Linked DNA regions of Homo sapiens. The protein of the gene in region 4 purifies or fractionates together with the protein of the main gene of each other region. This does not show direct contact. Each region holds a gene or a part of one and is shown on either strand. Other genes may lie near its edges.

Region 1 (4,514 bases), on a different chromosome or scaffold from region 4:
CCATACCTATTTTTCCCTATTGTTAACATCTACTACTGTGGTACACAAATCACAATTAATGAACCAATATCGATACAGTATTAGCAACTAAGGTCCAAACTTTATTCAAATGTGCTTGCTTTTTGCCTGACATCCTTTTTCTGTTCCAGGATCCCATCCAGGTTGCCACATGACATTTAGTTTCGTCATGTCTCTTTAGCCTTGAGTTGGCCATGGTAATTCTCAGACTTTCCTTGTTTTTGATGACCTTAATAGTTTTGAGGACTGCTGGCTGGCAGTTTGTACAATGTCTCTCAATTGGGATTTGTCAGATGTTTTCCTCATGATTAAAGTAGGGTTATTGGTTCTTGGGAGGAAGATTTAGAAAGTGCTATTCTTATTGCATCATATCAAGGGTCCCACCAATTGTTTTTCAAAACCCAAATGTGCCAGAAATTACTGGAAGTCAGACCTTGAGCATAGATTTTGCATTGAGAGGTAAGTTATCCACTGTGAAAGTGTCATCAATTTTAAAGTACCATGGTTCTGCTCTTCCTAGTCATGTAAGTCTGAGCAAAGTGCAAAGTACTTCTTACCTCAGTTTCCTCATCTATAAAATGGAGCCAACAATTATACCTTCCTTATAAAGTTGCTATGAGGGTTAAATGTGAAGTGCTTATAACTGCATCGACAGAGTAAATATTCAAAAAATGTTAGCTCATTATTAATCTACTGGAAGAAATGTTTTTTTGTAAAATCAAAAAACAAAAGGAAATCTGTAAGACTTAGGTTCAATAATTTGCTACCTTAAAAATGCCTCTCCTTTGAAATTATTAAGAGCTGTTGAAGCTATAGGAACGTAAGTAAAGTCAGCCCTCTGTATCCACAGACTCAACTAACTGCAAATAAAAAATATCTTTTAAAACCCCAAAAACAGCCAGGTGCAGTGGCTCATACCTGTAAACCCAGCACTTTGGGAGGCTGAGGCAGGAGGATTGCTTGAGGCTAGGAGTTCAATACCAGCCCAGGCAACACAGTGAGACCCCCATATCTATAAAAAATAGAAAAAAAATTTGGCTGGGTGTAGTAGTGTGCACCTGTAGTCCTAGCTACTCAGGAAGATCGCTTGAGCCCAGGAGTTCAAGGCTGCAGTGAGCCATGATTACATCACTGTACTCTAGCCTGGATGACAGAGTAAGATCCTGTCTCAAAAAAAAAAACCAAAAACCAAAAAAATGCCACAATAAAAAGTAAAACAAAATTTAAAATGCAGAATAACAACTATTTACATAGCAATTACACTGTATTAGCTATTAAAAGTAATCTAGAGATGACTTAAGGTACATGGGAGGATGTGCATAGGCTATCTGCAAATACCACACCATTTTATAGAAGAGACTTGACTATCCATGAATGTCGGTATCCATAAGGAGTCCTGGAACCAATCCCTGCCCTGCCCTGATACTGAGGGACGACTATATTTTAGAATAAGAGAAAATGAGAAAATTAAAGGGATATTAGAATGGCAAATCAGCAAAGTACACTTGGTTTTGCAGACTTTTTTTTTTTTTCTTTTTTTTGAGACAGGGTCTTACTCTGTCACCCAGGCTGTAGTGCAGTGGCATGATCACGGCTCACTGCAGCCTCAACCTCCTGGGCTCAAGCAATTCTCTTACCTCAACTTCCCGAGTAGCACACCTATACTATAGGCACGCGCCACCACACCCAGCTAATTTTTTTTTCTTTTTTTCTTTTTTTTGTAGAGATGGGGTTTCACCATGTTGTCCAGACTGGTCTTGAACTCCTGAACTCAAGTGATCTGCCTGCTTCAGCCTCCCAAATTGCTGGGATTACTGCTGTGAGCCACTGTACCTGGCTGCAGGCATTTTATAGTGATGCTTGAAAAACTGGGAAAAATCTTCTTGCCTTATTTTCAGATTATTCTATTCTGTGCTTCTTAGACAATGTTTCCTAAATACCACCACCACACTACTACCACTAACATTGTACTCAGCGCTCACAATGTGCCAAACACTGCTTTCAGGACTTACATACATTTTCTCATTTAATCCTTACCTAAACCTATGAAGTTAGTATCATTATTATTCTTGTCCTACAGATGAGGAAACTGATGCACACAGAAATTATGTTAACTTGCTCAGAGACACACTTAAGTAGAACCAGGACTGAGAAATCCAACTCCAGAGCACACAATGAACTTGTACAGTAGATACCAAGAGAATACAAAGGCAGACCTCCTGCATTTTAACTCTATGCTATTCCTGACTGCACAACCTGGGGCAAGCCACTTAACCTCCCTGCATTTCTGTTTCTTCATTTATAAATTTGGATGTCACTTTTTTAAAAAAAGTCAAATTTAAGACATCACTAGTTCTCAATCTTATTTTATGGACTCTAAGAAAAACTGCTGGCAATTATAACTGTATGGTGCCATATCATAAGACATAGCCCTCAGAGATGTTAAAATGTACATCTTATAATCTATGAAATCCAGTAGTATCTATCTCACAGTGTTGTTTGAGAAACTAATTTATATATGTGAATGCTTAGAACAGTCTGGTCCTGGTAAGTGCTGCATGAGTATGAGGTAGTGTTACTATTATTATTACTTCATTCACTTGATTACTCACGATGTAGCAAACATTCTAACACATTCAACACTCATAGGAAGTTCTTTGGACCTGAACTCTCAGTTTTTCTAATGTGAATAGACTATAGGCCGCACAGACTATGGGCCACAGAGAAAGTAAACTCCATTCTTCACTGATTTGTATTTGTCTTAAACATCCTTTTAGAAGTCAAACAAGCACGGTATCTGGGTGATGCAGGCTAAGACGTACAGCACTACACAGTGCTATGATGCTTCCTACCACTCACATGATTTCTTGCAAAAACCATGTCAACTTTCACCATGATTACTATTAAATATATGCAGTACTTGTGAAGGGCATTTTGGCCAATCACAATCTTTTTCTAGGGCGTGCTGTGACTTTCTTAACCAGTTTCCTTTGTGAATGACGGCCTGAATGCTGTTCTTTTTTCTTTTTTTAATTATACTTTAAGTTGTAGGGTACATGTGCACAACGTGCAGGTTTGTTACCGAGGTATACATGTGCCATGTTGGTTTGCTGCACCCATCAACTCGTCATTTACATTAGGTATTTCTCCTAATGCTATCCCTCCCCCAGTCCCCCACCCCACGATAGGCCCCAGTGTGTGATGTTCCCTGCCCTGTGTCCAAGTGTTCTCATTGTTCAATTCCCACCTATGAGTGAAAATATGCAGTGTCTGGTTTTCTGTCCTTGTGACAGTTTGCTCAGAATGATGGTTTCCAGCTTCATCCATGTCCCTGCGAAGGACATGAACTCATCCTTTTTTATGGCTGCATAGTATTCCATGGTGTATATGTGCCATATTTTCTTAATTCAGTCTATCATTGATGGACATTTGAGTTGATTCCAAGTCTTTACTATTGTGAGTAGTGCCGCAGTAAACATACATGTGCATGTGTCTTCATAGCAGCATGATTTATAATCCTTTGGGTACATACCCAGTAATGGGATCGCTGGGTCAAATGGTATTTCTATTCTAGATCCTTGAGGAATCGCCACACTGTCTTCCACAATGGTTAAACTAATTTACACTCTCACCAACAGTGTAAAAGCATTCCTATTTCTCCACATCCTCTCCAGCATCTGTTGTTTCCTGACTTTCTAATGATCGCCACTGAATGAAGCTGTTAACAACAACTAACCTGCCACTCAGTCTCACCACTTGGAAGGTGAGACTGACTCAGGTGTTTGTAACTCTAGCACCTCTGGTCATATGTGTGTATATATAGTCATTAATTTATTTCTTAATAAATACCTACTAAGCTACTCTGAGTCAGGTGCTGCAGGGAAACCAATACTGAAAAAGCATAGTGTGATTGATGCTGGCAGAAACACGGCTGTAGAAAACCTGGACCTACTGGGTTCCGAGGTGAGAAGATGTTATTTTTTTAGAGTTAATAGATTGGTTTTACTAGCAACTTTGCTGGATGTCAGAGAAAAGTAATTCTACGGTATAAACTTCATATACATTTTGCTTAATATAATACTCCCTTTAAATACAGTTTTAGAGGCTATTACAGAATTTCAGAATAGGGAAGTACAATCTGGTCCAACTTCATTTTTGACATAGGAAAGTAAAAACCAAAAGGTAAAGGTTTTTGAATCAAGACAAATGTTTACTAAACATGTACTTACTATAGATTATATGCTATGAACTATGGCATATATAGGTACTGGGGATACTGAGACAGGAAAGGAATAGGTGTTAAGTGTGATACTGGAGCTGCAGCAAGGACATTGCATATATAGACGAGGAAGCAATGGATTTTGTGGATCACAGAGATGACCAGGAAGGCTAAAGGGAGGAGCTGATATTTATGCTACTGTTTTATTTATTTTTGCTACTCTTGCAGTTTAGACCACGTGGAGTGCCCACTGTAACCATTCAGACCTTTTCAAAAA
Region 2 (4,514 bases), on a different chromosome or scaffold from region 4:
CTCCCACGCCATACACTCCTCCCACGCCATACACCCCTCCCACGCCATACACCCTCCCATGCCATACACCCCTCCCACGCCTCCCACGCCATACACCCCTCCCACGCCATACACCCCTCCCACGCCATATACCCCTCCCACGCCATACACCCTCCCACGCCATACACCCCTCCCACGCCATACACCCCTCCCACACCATACACTCCTCCCATGCCTCCCATGCCATACAAGCCCTCCCACGCCATACACCCCCTCCCACGCCATACATCCCTCCCACGCCTCCCATGCCATACACCCCTCCCACGCCATACACCCCCTCCCACGCCATACACCCCTTCCCATGCCTCCCACGCCATATACCCCTCCCACGCCTCCCACACCATACACCCCTCCCACGCCATACACCCCTCCTATGCCATACAACCCCTCCCACCCCATACACCCCCTCCCACGCCATACACCCCTCCATGCCGTACACCCCCTCCCAAGCCATACAACTGAACACCAGGCTCTGGGGGCCGCCATCCAGTCCCAGTGGGGTCACCTGGAGGCTGTGTCACCAGGAGCAAGGAGTTTAACGTCACCGTGCCTCAGTTTCCTCATGTCTGTAATAGCGAGCGTGAACTCAGTGAGAGACTAAGGCCTCCAGGGCAGGTCTGTGTCTTTCTTGGACACATAGCCCTTAGTCCGTGGAAGGAGGGCGGGAATTTTGATGCTTTTCTGTGAAGGAAAGGGCTCAAGCATCAGTGACCAAATCTCTGGGAGCCTCACCTTCTAGAAAATTGTCTTGCCCATCCCTCCAGGATTCTCCCAGGGTTGCAAATAATCCCCAGGAGGCCTGAAGCCCTCAGGGCCCCCTCCCCAGGAACTTCCCAACATCATCAGCCCCTTCCTTAGCACCGTCCCTGTCTTACAGACAAGGAAACTGAGGCTCCTGGAGAGTATGCGACTCATCCAAACTCACACGCTGGATGTATTCCCTCAACCTGGGCCCAGCTGGGGGCCTTCTGGGAGGAGTGGCATTGGAGAGCTCCTCTGTCCTGCCATGGGAGGCCCAGCCTTCTCCCACATGAAGACCCCTCAGGGCTAGAGCCCGGGGCACAGATGAGGAGAAAGGCAGGCCTAGTTCCCACCCCCAGGGACGGCGTTCCATGACATTCTGCAAAGAGTCCGTGTGACTTCCCATGTCCATTTCAAGCTGCACAGTTTCCCTGAAGTGAAAAACCACAAAACCCCTTCTGCCGAGATGCTATGCAGGCCTGGGGGCCGATGTCAGAACCAAGAGGAAGGAGAAGGGAGGGGAGGGGAACTCTGGGCCCTCCGCCAAAGCCCGCTTGCTTCTCTGTGGCAGGATGGAAGGGGATGGACGCTGGTCACCACCTACCCTGTGCCAGGCACTGAGCTGGGTGCTTCCAACAACACCGGGGTGAGTTCCCATTTCACAGACCAGGAAACAGGCCCAGAGTGGGGAAGCCAAGGCCCGAAGGCACAGAGCTGGGGGGAGAAGTCGGGATGGCAGGAGGGGCAGCCCCTGGAACAGGGGAGCCCACTGAGGCCAGGTGCTGGGGAGAAAGGAAGGGTGGGGCAGGGACGAGGAGCCTGAGGCTCAGAGAGGATGTCACTCGCTCTGAGTCACATGCTGGGCGTCTCCCCTCTACCTGGAGGCATATACGCCCACCAGGGATCATGGGCAGTGGTTGTCATGGGGCTTGGCTGGCAAGAGCAGGGTGCCCTGAGCTCAGCCCGGAGTCTGGTCACCACAGCCCCCTGTGTTGAGGAGGTGTCACTGGGCACTTGGCCACTGTCTCCTTATAAGGGACCACATCTGCGTCCACTTCCCCCACATCCACCAACTGCCTTTTCCCTGGCACCCAGCCACCCACTCACCCAGGACAAGGGTCCTGAGCTGGGGGGCCAGGGCTCACTTTGGCTCGGCCTCTCACTGCTCTAGGACTTTAGTCAGTTCCCCCTCTCCGGGCCTCAGTCTCCCATCTGTCTAGGACTCATTGCCATGCGATGGCTCATCAAGCTGAGGCAGGGGGCAGGGGAGCTACAGAGAGGGCAAGGAGGGTGAGGGGGCGGTGGGGGCAGTGGAGGTGCAGGGAGGACAGATGGCCCTCAGCTTTGTGGCTTAGGGAGCCAGTCCACCCCTGTCAGAATCCTGGCTGGGTGGCCTTAAGCCAGCAACATGTCCCCCCGAGCCTGTTTCCTCTCTGTAAAGTGAAGGTGACAAGAGCTCTTCGTCATAGCTGCTGTGAGAATGAAGTGGCTCCCAGGAAGTGCTCAGTCCACATCAGCTGTGATTATCAGCTGGGCTCAGGGCTGCCCCCAAAACTTGTCATCCCAGGGCTGGGGAGTCCAGGTGGGCAGAGGCAGTTGCTGCTTCCCTCACTATCCCTGCCAGTCCCCCCAGGACTCCCCCTAGGCCTAAGCTGGTCTGAGGCACAGTTAAAATCACTGCCCCTGCCCCAGCTCCATGCAGGGTCAGCCAGGAAAGACTGGCTAGAGGCCAAGGCAAGAACTCTGAGTCACCACCTTATGGAGGAGAGAGGGCCTTTGGGGATTGTCCAGGTCAGCTTATGTGGAGAGGGAGACTGAGGCCCAGAGAGGGGCAGCCACTAACCCAAGGTCACACAGCCAATCAGTATCAGAGCCAGGACCAGAATCCAGGCCTCCAGCACCCTCCACATGATCCCAAAGCATGTGCTTTACAAGGGAGAGGTCAGTGACAGCCAGGCCACAGGCTGGAGAGCTGCACCCTGAATAGAAGGAGTCCAGGGGCAGGGGTTGGAGGGGTGCTGGTTGGTCAGAAAGAGAAGGCAGGGATGAATCCTTGATATTTAAAAGGAAAGACTTGCAGGCTGGGGAGCTGTGGCCCTAGGACAGGGGAAGGGAGCCAGGGTGTGAGCCATAGTCTGAGGCCCCCGGGGAAGATGGCTGTGTCACCACGCTAGTCACAGAAGGAGGGAGGTGGTGGCTGCGGTTTCTCTTCCTGTGAAGAGATGTGAGTCCCCAGGGCCCTCCCAGTTCCGGCAGGGGGAGGTGGGGCGGGGCTGGGGCGGTGGGGCGGGAGGAGGTCTAGTGGATTCAATTTGGGGGCCAAACCCTGGGCCTGCAGAGTCCTGTGGTGAGGCAGAGGGCACAGCTCATATGACCAAACCCAGCTGGTGGTTTTGGGCTTTTGGGCAAGGATCCCTGAGCTACAGACACATTGGGACCTACCAGGGACAGGGACAGGAACAGCCAGCAGGCCTGGGTACCATGCATGAAGCCAGACCCATGGTCATCGCCTCCCTGATGCAGGCAGCCCTGAGCCACTACAAAGAAGCACCCCCCAGCAGTGAGCCAATAATTTGCTGTCCTTCCTTCAAATCTGGCTGGGCCACCTACTAGCTGGGTGACCTTGAGAAGTTACTATATTTCTCCAGCCCAGTGATTTGGAGGCAAAGAGGGGTCGAGCTGAGAAACCAAAGGGAGTGGGGAAAGGGAGGAGAGAAGGTGGTGGAAGGAAATGTGTCACCCTTTAGATCTAATGCAGCGCCACCTCCTCCAGGAAGCCTTCCCAGAACACCCAAGTTTGACTTGCCACTTGTCCTCCAAGCAACCACAGCACCCCCACTCAATCTCTGCTTCTGTCTGCTCAAAGCACACCTCCTTATTTTCAGTATCTATTAATAGATACTACTCATACTACTAGGACGACTACTACTAACACAGAGTGCTTCTCACACACAGGTGCTGCCCTGGCAGCTCCACCTGGAATAAGTTACTGAATTCCCCCAACCACCCCAGGAGGCAGGAGCTATCACTATCCCATGCTTTTCTGATAAGGAAACACAGGCAGAGAGAGGCTACGTGACTCGCCCAAGGTCACACAGCAAGTGCACAGCACAGCTGAGTTCAAACTGCACAGCCTGGCCCTGCAGCCCGTGTTTACAATCACACCACGAGGCCAAGTCAGGGCCTCCCCTGCAGCCAGATCGCCCCTCTGAGCCCGAGGCCCATACCAATCTCCTTGGCCAGTGCCAGGCCCTGCGGGTAGGTGATGGGAGCCAGCTTCTTCTCCTTCAGTTTCTCGATGGTGTCCTTGTCGTCCCGCAGGTCCAGCTTGGTGCCCACCAGGATGATGGGTGTGCTGGGGCAGTGGTGCCGCACTTCTGGGAACCACTGGGCAGGTGGGTGGGGGGACACAAGGTTGTATGGGTCAAGAGGGGGCGCGAGGCTGTGCGGGGATCAGAGGGAGTGTGAGGGTGTAGGGAGAGGAGAGGCAGCAAGTTGCCAGAAGATCAGAGGTGGGCACGACGGTGAGGAGAGAGAGACGTGAGGTGGCACAGGGAGGGGAGGCCACGACGTTGTGCAGGAAGGAGGGGGCGCATGATTGTAGGAAAGGAGGAGGCGAGGTTTTGTGCAGACATAAGAAGCAAACATGAGGTTATGTGACAATCGGAGGCGGACATGAGGTTGTGTGGGGAGGAGGAGAATGCAGCCATGGAAAGTGGGGGTATAGCTAACTA
Region 3 (4,514 bases), on a different chromosome or scaffold from region 4:
GACCTTGCCTTACCCATGACGTGTACTCTTTCATTTGGTGCTGGTTGCTATGAGAACCACCGGCATGTCCCCTCCAGAAGCAGTCCTGACAGAGCTGGTAATTGTGACACTGTTGGCATCGGTAGCGAAATCCCATCATACTCTCACTGTGGCAGTAGGAACACTCAACCGGATGGAAGACTAAGGGGGAAGTAAGTGAAGAAAAACCAAGAAAACAAAAGTATGAACCAGAAGAAGGAAAAATACAGCCTTACAGGAATTGCACCTTTCTTCTCTGCACCACGATTTCAGATGATAGTTGATTTGGGCTCAGAGAAACATTTAGTTCATTCCTGGAATCTTACAACCCTTTTCAATCATGCCTGTGGGGAAATGAAATGAAATGGGATGGAGAAGAGGTGTCCTTTTAACAACAAAAATCTCTGTAATGCCATTTGCTCTTTCTATTCCCATCTCTCACATTACAAGAATTTAAATTAGCCAAACAGACTTGCCTTTACCCCAAACTGCTCTCTGTCTCCAGGAGACCAGCACAGCTCACTGGAAGACTCAGAAGCACAAGGGGTGAATGCTGATTGTCCAGTGGGAAGAGAGCGAATATCAGAGACACGGAGAATGAGAGGAAGAAAAAAGAAAGGAAGATGGGCAGAGAATGGAAAACTGGTGTGGATGAGATAATTAAGTTATTTTTTAAAAAATAGAGTGACTAATGGCTTACTTAACGAGTGGTGTTGCCTACATCTGACAAACAGATTTTTTTTTCTTTCCTGAGGCAGGTGTATAGGGCCCTAAAAAAGATGTGCAAATTATCTGAAAACAGTTCTAAATAATTCAAATGCCTCAAGAGACGGTTAACTTTCTTTGGTAGGAAATTTGAATTATAAAGCAGGCAAAGCAAAATACTAGATTTGAAGCAAAGTAAAATATTAGATTTAAGTGATCAAATCCAAGTAATTGTCTACATGCTATGAGCTAGATACTAAAACAACAATAACAATTCTTGCCTTTGGTAAAGCTATTCTCCGGCCTAACCAGTCAGGAAAAACAATGAAAATAATAATAAATGAAGATAAAAAGCAAAGTGTAAAAACAAAGACATAACTAGCTCTGGACGCATTGTCTTCTAAACAAGTGTCATAACCTTTCTTCCCGGCTCTTGAGAAAGACTAGAGTGGGACTTCAATCTAGGGACAACTGTTCTGGGATGGTGCCTAAGAAACTGATCTCCTGCAGCAGGAAATGCTGAGAGAGAACGAAAGAAATTATAGCTTTATGATTGGAAAATGACTAGTTCTAGAACTGTAAACAGTAACGTGAACTCATTTTGCATAATAACATGGACCTTGATTGCTCTTCGCTTCTGCATATGGATAAACATAAAAAAACTATGATTGTTAGTGATTGCAAAAAAATAAAATAAATTCATTCTTTAAATTTTCTCCATGAGAAAAACAGGATAAATTCATAACTTCTAACTAACAGATAAATAAGGGCAGATGCTAAAAATTCTGAATGATAATTTAAAATTAAGCTAACTTTAGCTGCAATGTATATTAAAGAAATACACAGAAGTTGAGTAATATATAGAGACTTAAGTTAAATCTCAGTAAGAGATAGAGACTAAATTATTTCCTCGTCAAGTCTGGAGAAATTTCAGAGTTACATTGAACAATAAGTAGGAACACCTAAAGATTAGATGGAGGCACTGAACTGCTCCATGTTTAATTTTCTGTAAATTTTGCCCCAAATGGTATTTCATATTTAAATCTGGATATGCCAACAGTAGTTCCTTTTATCCTAGAAATACTTGCTTTAAAAAAAGACATGATACGAAAGTTATTTTACTCTTATCTTTAACGTAAGTACAACTATTGAAAGCTCACAATCTGGAACATATGACTAAAGATTAACAGGGTGCTATCATCTATTTTTTTTTCTCATTTCTCCCACCTATTTCTGGCTGAGTGCCTGGGAAGAAATAATCAGTACCGTGTATGCAAATATGAGAAATTCGGATCTAAAACAAATACAAAATAATGTCACACTCCTTGTTGAAGTTCGCCTTCTATCGTGCCAAGTCTTTTAACCACACCTGACTTGTAATTGAGAAGAAGACCATGAGATTTATTTTTGGAACTGACAGTCCTAATTTTTCAGTGGTCCTTTAAGGCCTTCCCGAACAGGGAGATGGGTTAGTTCTACCCTAAACAAAACTAAGAGCCACTAAATAGGCTTCCCTAAAACAACAGCCTGGGCTTACTAACTGTAGAACTAATGGCCTAATTTCAATAATTTAAAAAATCACCTTTGCTCCTTAGTAACTACTCACCATTTTCCACATTTGCTAGTCGATGCAGAAGAGGCAACCAGACCAGACACTGCGGGGGAGGATCTGACATAAGCGTGTCCAAGAAACCATTTAACGTGACTTTTTTCTGCATAAAAAAACCCCCCATAAATTTAGGACAGAGAATCATCTCAATTTACCTGCTATGTAAATATCATATCATTTGAGACTGAAACAAAAGAGCACTCAATAAATGTCTAATATCTGAAGAAACAGAACTTGCCAAATGTGTTATTAAACTAGTTTAGAACTGAAAACATCGTTTGCTTTTTATACCTAAGCAGACATAGGACTGAATTCTCTCCACTGAGGCTGAGTCAATAGTATCACCAGGAGAAAAACAATTCCAAGAGCATCATTTGTATATATGAAAGACAGTATAAAAATAATGAAGCAAAATAAAGAATGGAAATTCTCCATGGAATTTTACTCAAGAACGCATCATAGCTCACTCTACAATTTTCCTGTCAGTCAGTCTTCTAAATTTATAGAACAACTTCCCTTCTGAGCTTCCTCAACTTCCTTAAGTACTAAATATTTAGTGGTTAATGTGAATGGTTCTGTTATACAAGAGCAGGAGGGAATCCTGTTAGGACAGAACCATCTACATTTTTAAAAATTTGCTCCTTTTATTACTTTATATATAATTCCTCTCAATTCAGTCTGCTTCTTTCTCACTATCCAGGTCCTTTTGGATGTACAAAAGGAATGCATTGTATCTATAAGTTTCTTTCAAAATGATAAAAGTAAGAAAGCTATATTAATACATGTACTGTAATGGTATAAATAAAAAAATACATATTTATATGCAAAAATCACTACTTGAAATTTTGAACTAGAATATCAAAGGGGATGGGATAATTTTATTTATTTATTTTTTAAAATATTTTATTTATTTGCTTGAAAGATGGGGTCTCATTATGTTGCCCAGGCTGGACTCTAACTCCTGGTCTCAAGCTGTCTTCCTACCTCCTCCTACCTACCTCAGACTCTTGAGTAGCTGTTAATAGCCAATTCATTAAGTACAAAAATAAACTGGTCTTATTATTTTTGTGTTACCTCTTTTCATATTTGAAATGATCTTATTCATTTTGACTATTTGTCATACTTGCTAAAAAGCACTCCTGGAAGTTTCCAACAATGCTATTATGATTTCAACATGTATAAGTTGCTTATCATTAAGGATATATATAAATCATATAACAGAACAGTCTATAGGATATTTCAAAAGGAATTTTGAACATGTCAACATCACATATAATTCTTGAACACATAGGTCCTTTTTTCTCTTTTTTTTTTCTTTTAGAGACAGGATCTCACTCTGCTGCCCAGGCTGGAGTGCAGTGGCACAATTATAGCTCACTGCAACCTTGAACACCTGGGCTAAAGGGATCCTCTCATCTCAGCCTCCCAAGTAGCTGGGACTATAAGTGTGTGCCACCACACCTGGCTAATTGTTTAATTTTTTTTTTTTTTCAGAGATGAGATCTTACTATGTTGTCCAGGCTGGTCTTGAACTGCTGGACTCAAGCTCTCCTCCTGCCTCAGCCTCTCAGTGCTAGGATTACTGTGTGAGCCATCACACCAGCATAGGTCCTTTTAAGATTTTTTTTTTAAAACCCAGTCCTATTATTCTAGCTGATTTTGAATGAGACATATATTCTGAGGCATTAGCACATTTACCAATTATTCTATAATACACTAACTAAAATTCAAGAATTCAGTTATAAATGAAATTATTCTTGTTTCCATGACTGGGTGAAGTAATACAACAGGTAGTTACATTTCCTTGAGTCAGATCATCTGCATATTTGTAAATATGAACTGAAAGTGCACAAAACAAAAGCAACAACAACAAGAACACAAGAATAACATTAACAGATGGAATTAGAAGACCAGAGTTAAAAACTCAGCCCCCTGCCCTCACTAGCTATGAACTTTATATTGTTAAAAAAGAATCATATTTTCCTTGTTAGGTCACAGGGTTGTTGCAAGCCATAAATCAGATAATTCACTTTGTGAGGCATAAAGCACTGTAAAAATAAAAGGAGCCATACATTTAGCATGCCATGAGAAAAGTTGGAAAGCAGTAAAATTGAATGAAAAAATAGATTTGTGTTTTGAAGTGATTGACTTTTTTTTTTTTTTTTTTTTTGAGATGGAGTCT
Region 4 (5,442 bases):
CTGTGGTATCCTCAGCACTTAAAGATGTTTCCTAGCGCATAGTAGGTGCTCAGTAAATATTTGTCAAATGAATGAATGAACGGATGAATTCTGCATCTACCCCATGAGACTCACCTCCTACAGTTCAAGCTTATGCTAAGAGAATAAAGTATTCCCTTGAGCGATTCTGTCTCCCCACCTCAGATTTGTTCAGACTTCTTTGGCATGCTCATTCTTCTATTTCTTGCAAATTTCATAGCTAAGCTCAGAAATGACTCTCACGTTTTGTGGTTATCAGATCTGAAAATATATATATGTAATAATAGTGAATGTGGAAGTAAATTGTTGACCTAATGGAATGCTCAGAGGAAAGAACAGGTTGAGAGTGAGGCCAAGGTCACAGATTTGATCTCAGGAAAGCTTTGTTCTATTTCCCAACCACAGACAACTCTCCCAGTCCAGACCAGTTGTGCCAGAGGAGACCAAGCATGGGTCCAAAATTCTGTATATACCGTGATGACAGTAAATGTATTAGCACCGCCAGAATGCGGTTCACAGTTGTGTCTTGTTGACGGCAGACCAGCAGCCTCATCACCGCAGAACAGCACACTGAGGCTGCTGTTAACATGGTCAGGTGTTGTTCCTGTGGCCAATGGGATGTTTTTAAAGGTGGGAAAGAGAGTGAGCAGGTGTGGCCTGGGGCTTCCTAGATATCCAGGCAAATGACTTAGCATCATGGGAGATTTCTTGTTCTGCTTTGTGGAGTTCACTCATCTCACTCCCTCAAACACCTTAGCTTTGTGGAGACTTGTTGTATTGCTTGTATTCTGACCTAGGAATGTCTTCCCTTCTTTTCTGTGGCTTTTGTAGTTATCAATGCCCTGTCTCAGAGATATTTCCTTCAAGCCAATGATCAGAAAGATATGAAGGACTGGGTTGAAGCCCTGAACCAAGCCAGCAAGATCACCGTAAGTTTGGTTTCTTCTGTTTTCTGGTGGTAGTAAAAGTGCCTCTTCCCAGGCTATGGCCTTGTTGGGGTTGGGGAAAACTGAGATGGCAGCGGGGACTTTCCCAGGAGCCTGGTCTGTACCCAGTTCTCTCCCACCTCGTCTTTTTCCTTGGCTGACCAAACACAAGTTGAACTGAGAGTCTGAGTTTGAATCAAGTTCAAGGGGAAGTTCATGGAGCGTCCCCTTTGTGCTTCCTGGGAGGGCTCCCGATCAGTCATGTTTCGGGTGATTCTGGGATGCTGATTCAGAATGTGGTAGGATTGGAAAATGGATTGGTGACTGTGAAAAGTCAAGTAAGGGGAAAAGCATATGGGGAGGGAAGTCAGAACTTTTTCCCAGCTTGGGGGATACTCTTCTTACTTTCAGAGGCTGCCTGCAGGGTCAGTCCAAGCCATCCGCCTCCCTGTCCTAGAAAAGCCTTCTGTTTAAAAGCATCACAGAGCTCGTTCATGGACTGTCCTACGAGTGTGCTCTTTTTCCTTGAGTTGGCTAATGAAGAATTCCTTTCTTTTTCCTTAGAGATATAGAAAAAGAAAGGAAGAAGGGTAGGAAGGATGGAGAGGGGAAACTATGTTTTGGAAAAAACTAGACTTTTAATCAATAAGACAGGCAGACTCCTGGCTTATATAGATCATGGCTTCTTTGCTGAAAAGTTTGTTTCTGTATCATACAGTCAGAAATGCTTATGTTTGAGGGGCTTCCAGTAGTGACTATTACATGCTGCAGCAAATTATCCTCCCAGATTTCTCAGGGTTCCTGTGAACAACTGTATAGAAGAAATTTGTACACGTATATAGTATTCATATTGCTAGACCCAACCTGAGTGTAATTGAGTCTCCTATAAGCACTTTTGCTGATTAGCTTCTTATTCTGATAAACCTTGGTAAACCCGTGAAAAGAGAGAGTGATGAAAAGAGAGAGGATGGATGGCTGGGTGCAGTGGCTCACGCTTGTAATTCCAGCACTTTGGGAGGCCGAGGTGGGTGGATCACCTGTGGCCAACATAGTGAAACCCCGTCTCTACTAAAAATACAAAATTAGCTGGGCGTGGTGGCACACGCCTGTAGTCCCAGCTACTCAGGAGGCTGAGGCAGGAGAATCACTTGAACCTGGGAGGCAGAGGTTGCAGTGAGCCGAGATCGTGCCATTGCATTCCAGCCTGGGCGACAAGAGTGAAACTCCACCTCAAAAAAAATAAAAAATAAAAAAATTAGCCAGGCCTGGTGGCTTACACCTGTATTCCCAGCTACTTAGGAGGCTGAGGCAGGAGGATCACTTGAGCCCAGAAGTTTGAGGCTGCAGGGAGTTATGATCGCACCACTGTACTTCAGCCTAGGCAACAGAGTGAAAGCCCATCTCTTAAAGAAGTCTCAGGTAGTGTAAACAGCTTTGGAAAGGCTCTGCATGTTGATCTGAAGCACTGCATGACACCGGAGCATAAGCACTGACAAACAGTGTTCTTCGGGATTTTGAGAGGAAACACAGCAGCCAAGCTTCTGTGCCTCCTTTTCTGGCCACTGGGAACTCTAAAAAGTTACTTTCTGGCCAGGCGCGGTGGCTCACGCCTGTAATCCCAGCACTTTGGGAGGCTGAGGCGGGTGGATCACAAGGTCAGGAGTTCGAGACCAGCCTGGCTAACATGGTGAAACCCCGTCTCTACTAAAAATATAAAAACTAGCTGGGCATGTTGGCATGCACCGTAATCCCAGCTACTTGGGAGGCTGAGGCAGGAGAATCACTTGAACCCAGGAGCTGGAGATTGCAGTGAGCCGAGATCGCGCCACTGCACTCCAGCCTGGGCGACAGAGCAAGACTCCATCTCAAAAAAAAAAAAAAAAAAATTGTTATTTCCCTCCTTCTTTGCTGGGTTTCAGGAATTCATCTGGGTCATTTAGGGGAAATTTCTGCAGTTCCATGGTGATTTTAATCACTAAATATCAACTAAAAATCAACATCCCTAAAAATGTGGTTACATAATAACAGAACTCACAGAAAGTGAGAAAGAGTAGCTTAGGTAGGTCGTGACATGCAGCAACAAGGAGTCAGGCAGTCCTAGAGCCAAATCACTTAATTTTAATGAGCTTGAGTTGACCTCATCTATAAAGTGGAGAAAATCATGCCTGGTTGATAAGATTAGTGATAATGCAGCAAAGAGCTTATCAGTGCATTGCCTGGCACTGAATGGTGGCCCAGAGAAACTGTAACTGCTGGTATCTCTCAGCCAGAAAGAAAATAGAAGGCGGAATTTCTGGCCTGATTTGGAGGGGTAGGGAGGGGGCAGAGGACGTCCTTGTCTATGTAAACTGAGTGTGCAGTCCAGGAAGAGAAGGTCTCGTTGTCTTTGTGGGGGCCCAGCATAATCAGGGTGCTCTTATTGTTTTGAACAGACACCAAATGACAGGGCTGTCATATAGCTCTGAGCTCGGATCCTTAGGTCTTTCTTACTCTGAAAGCTGTAGAAGTGGGAGAGGACCTTAGCTTTTCTCTCGAAGTCCCGGTGACGTCCCGGCAGATAGATGTAGGGTGTTGCGTTCTCCTGAAGGTGGGGCATTGTGATGCTGGGGCACTGGTGGGAAGTCAGAGTTTAGTAGACATTCAGCTGTTTTTTTGTTTTGTTTTTGTTTTGAAACGGAGTCTCGCTCTATAGCCCAGGCTGGAGTGCAATGGCGTGATCTCGGCTCACTGCAACCTCTGCCTTCTGGGTTCAAGCGATTCTCCTGCCTCAGCCTCCTGAGTAGCTGGGGTTACAGGTGCCCGCCACTACGCCCAGCTAATTTTTGTATTTTTAGTAGAGACGGAATTTCACTATATTGGTCAGGCTAGTCTCGAACTCCCGACCTCAGGTGATCCGCCCGCCTCGGCCTCCCAAAGTGCTGGGATTATAGGCATGAGCCACTGTGCCTGGCCGACATTCAGCTGTTAATCCTGGCTTTGGGTAAATGACTCAACTGTTCTGGACCTCTTTTTTTTTTTTTCTTTCTAACAAAATGAAAGATTTCCTCAGCATTTGCAGACTCTAGTATAAATGAGTGAAGTGGGCAAGGAGGAGGAAACAGGGCAACAGGAATGAGGATAAGTGACATTTGACCCCTGGCCTCTCCCGTTCTGCTGGGGAGAATGGTAGGGACTGTGCAAACACAATGTATTTTCTATCTAAAAGGGAACTGCTGCATAGCTGAAAATCTGGATTTTTCTGTGAAATATCCCAAAACTTAGATGCAGATTTTAAAAAATACTGCATGTGACTAACAAAACATTGTTTGGGCAAAGTCAGTGGGTGGGCCACCAATTTGCAACCTCTGGCCTGTGATTTCCAACTAACAATAAAAATTTTATGATGATTTGATCAGCTGTGGTACCATATCTCTGTCAAGGAAGAGCAAAGATAGCTCATTCTTCCAAAAGGGCTCTGTGTATAATTATTAGTAACAACGTGGGAAGCCTTAATTATAATATTTTGTAATATGTTTTTCTTTTTAGTTGTGTTTCTAAAGCATTTAATATACTCTATCATTTGATAACCACAACGATGGTTATGATAAATATTATTCCACTTTTCATTTTATGCATGAGACGGTTTAGGCCTAGAAAGGTTTGATGGTTGCCAAAGGTCTCTCAGGTGGTTCGTGAGAGGTGAAGGGTTATACCACACATCTTCTGGCTCCAGACTTCATGGACCCCTTGTTCTGTCTCTACAAAGGCATGCATGCATTTTTACCTGTTCAATCTGCCCAGAATGCCTTCTCCCAGCTTCATGTTCCTGGTTCCTTTTATTTAGTTTTTTATTTTGTATTTTTTTCGAGACAGGGTCTCTGTCACCTAGCCTGGAGTACAGTGGTGTGATTATAGCTCACTTCAGCCTCCAATTCCTGGGCTCAAGAGATTCTCCTACCTTGGCCTGTTGAGCAGCTGTGTGCTACCACACCTGGCTAATTTTTTTTTTCATTTTTAGTAGAGATGGGATCTCACTATGTTCCCCAGGCTGGTCTTGAACTCCTGGGCTCAAGTGACCCTCCTGCCTTGGCCTCCCAAAGTGCTGGGGTTACAGGTGTGAGGCCCCGGACCTGGCCCCCATCTCCTGCTTACCCTCCAGGTTGCCGTTTGAGTGTCTCCCTGCCTTCTCCTCTAGAGACCTCCCTGCCCACTCTGTTTCCAGCAGGTCCCCTGCTGTGCGCTGCCTCAGCTCTCTTGATCTTCTTTGTGCCACTCACCACCATTTGTAATTACTCTGTTTGTTTTACGTTTTTTTTTGTCATTCCCCCTACTAGCATGTAAGTGCCGTGAAGGTGGGGACCCACGTGTGTTTCGCTTGACACTTTATCTTTGGTTTCTAGCCAGGGAAGGGCTGGCTCATAAGTAGGCGCTCAAGAAATTCCTGGAGTCAGTTTGTATCTGTGTAGGGGGAGGGCGTTGCTGGTTGAGATGCTCATATTCAGATTTGGACTGTGGAAGG

Evidence for each region. The genes of interacting proteins can lie anywhere in the genome.
Region 1: the proteins of PLEKHA2 (region 4) and RALA purify together in Homo sapiens (affinity purification with mass spectrometry, with the first as the bait; one large-scale study listed by BioGRID). This does not show direct contact.
Region 2: the proteins of PLEKHA2 (region 4) and RAC2 purify together in Homo sapiens (affinity purification with mass spectrometry, with the first as the bait; one large-scale study listed by BioGRID). This does not show direct contact.
Region 3: the proteins of PLEKHA2 (region 4) and DTNA purify together in Homo sapiens (affinity purification with mass spectrometry; one large-scale study listed by BioGRID and IntAct). This does not show direct contact.

The regions. Positions count from the first base shown.
Region 1 is NC_000007.14:39,692,104-39,696,617, reverse strand, and holds part of RALA (ras-related protein Ral-A precursor), read right to left. Parts: intron 1-4,514. UniProt on the Homo sapiens protein: Multifunctional GTPase involved in a variety of cellular processes including gene expression, cell migration, cell proliferation, oncogenic transformation and membrane trafficking.
Region 2 is NC_000022.11:37,227,224-37,231,737, forward strand, and holds part of RAC2 (ras-related C3 botulinum toxin substrate 2), read right to left. Parts: intron 4,168-4,514; coding exon 4,008-4,167; intron 721-4,007; coding exon of another isoform or gene 683-720; exon of another isoform or gene 516-682; intron 1-515. UniProt on the Homo sapiens protein: Plasma membrane-associated small GTPase which cycles between an active GTP-bound and inactive GDP-bound state.
Region 3 is NC_000018.10:34,813,830-34,818,343, reverse strand, and holds part of DTNA (dystrobrevin alpha), read right to left. Parts: intron 2,436-4,514; coding exon 2,330-2,435; intron 383-2,329; exon of another isoform or gene 181-382; coding exon 14-180; exon of another isoform or gene 1-13. UniProt on the Homo sapiens protein: May be involved in the formation and stability of synapses as well as being involved in the clustering of nicotinic acetylcholine receptors.
Region 4 is NC_000008.11:38,945,275-38,950,716, forward strand, and holds part of PLEKHA2 (pleckstrin homology domain-containing family A member 2), read left to right. Parts: intron 1-849; coding exon 850-947; intron 948-5,442. UniProt on the Homo sapiens protein: Binds specifically to phosphatidylinositol 3,4-diphosphate (PtdIns3,4P2), but not to other phosphoinositides. May recruit other proteins to the plasma membrane.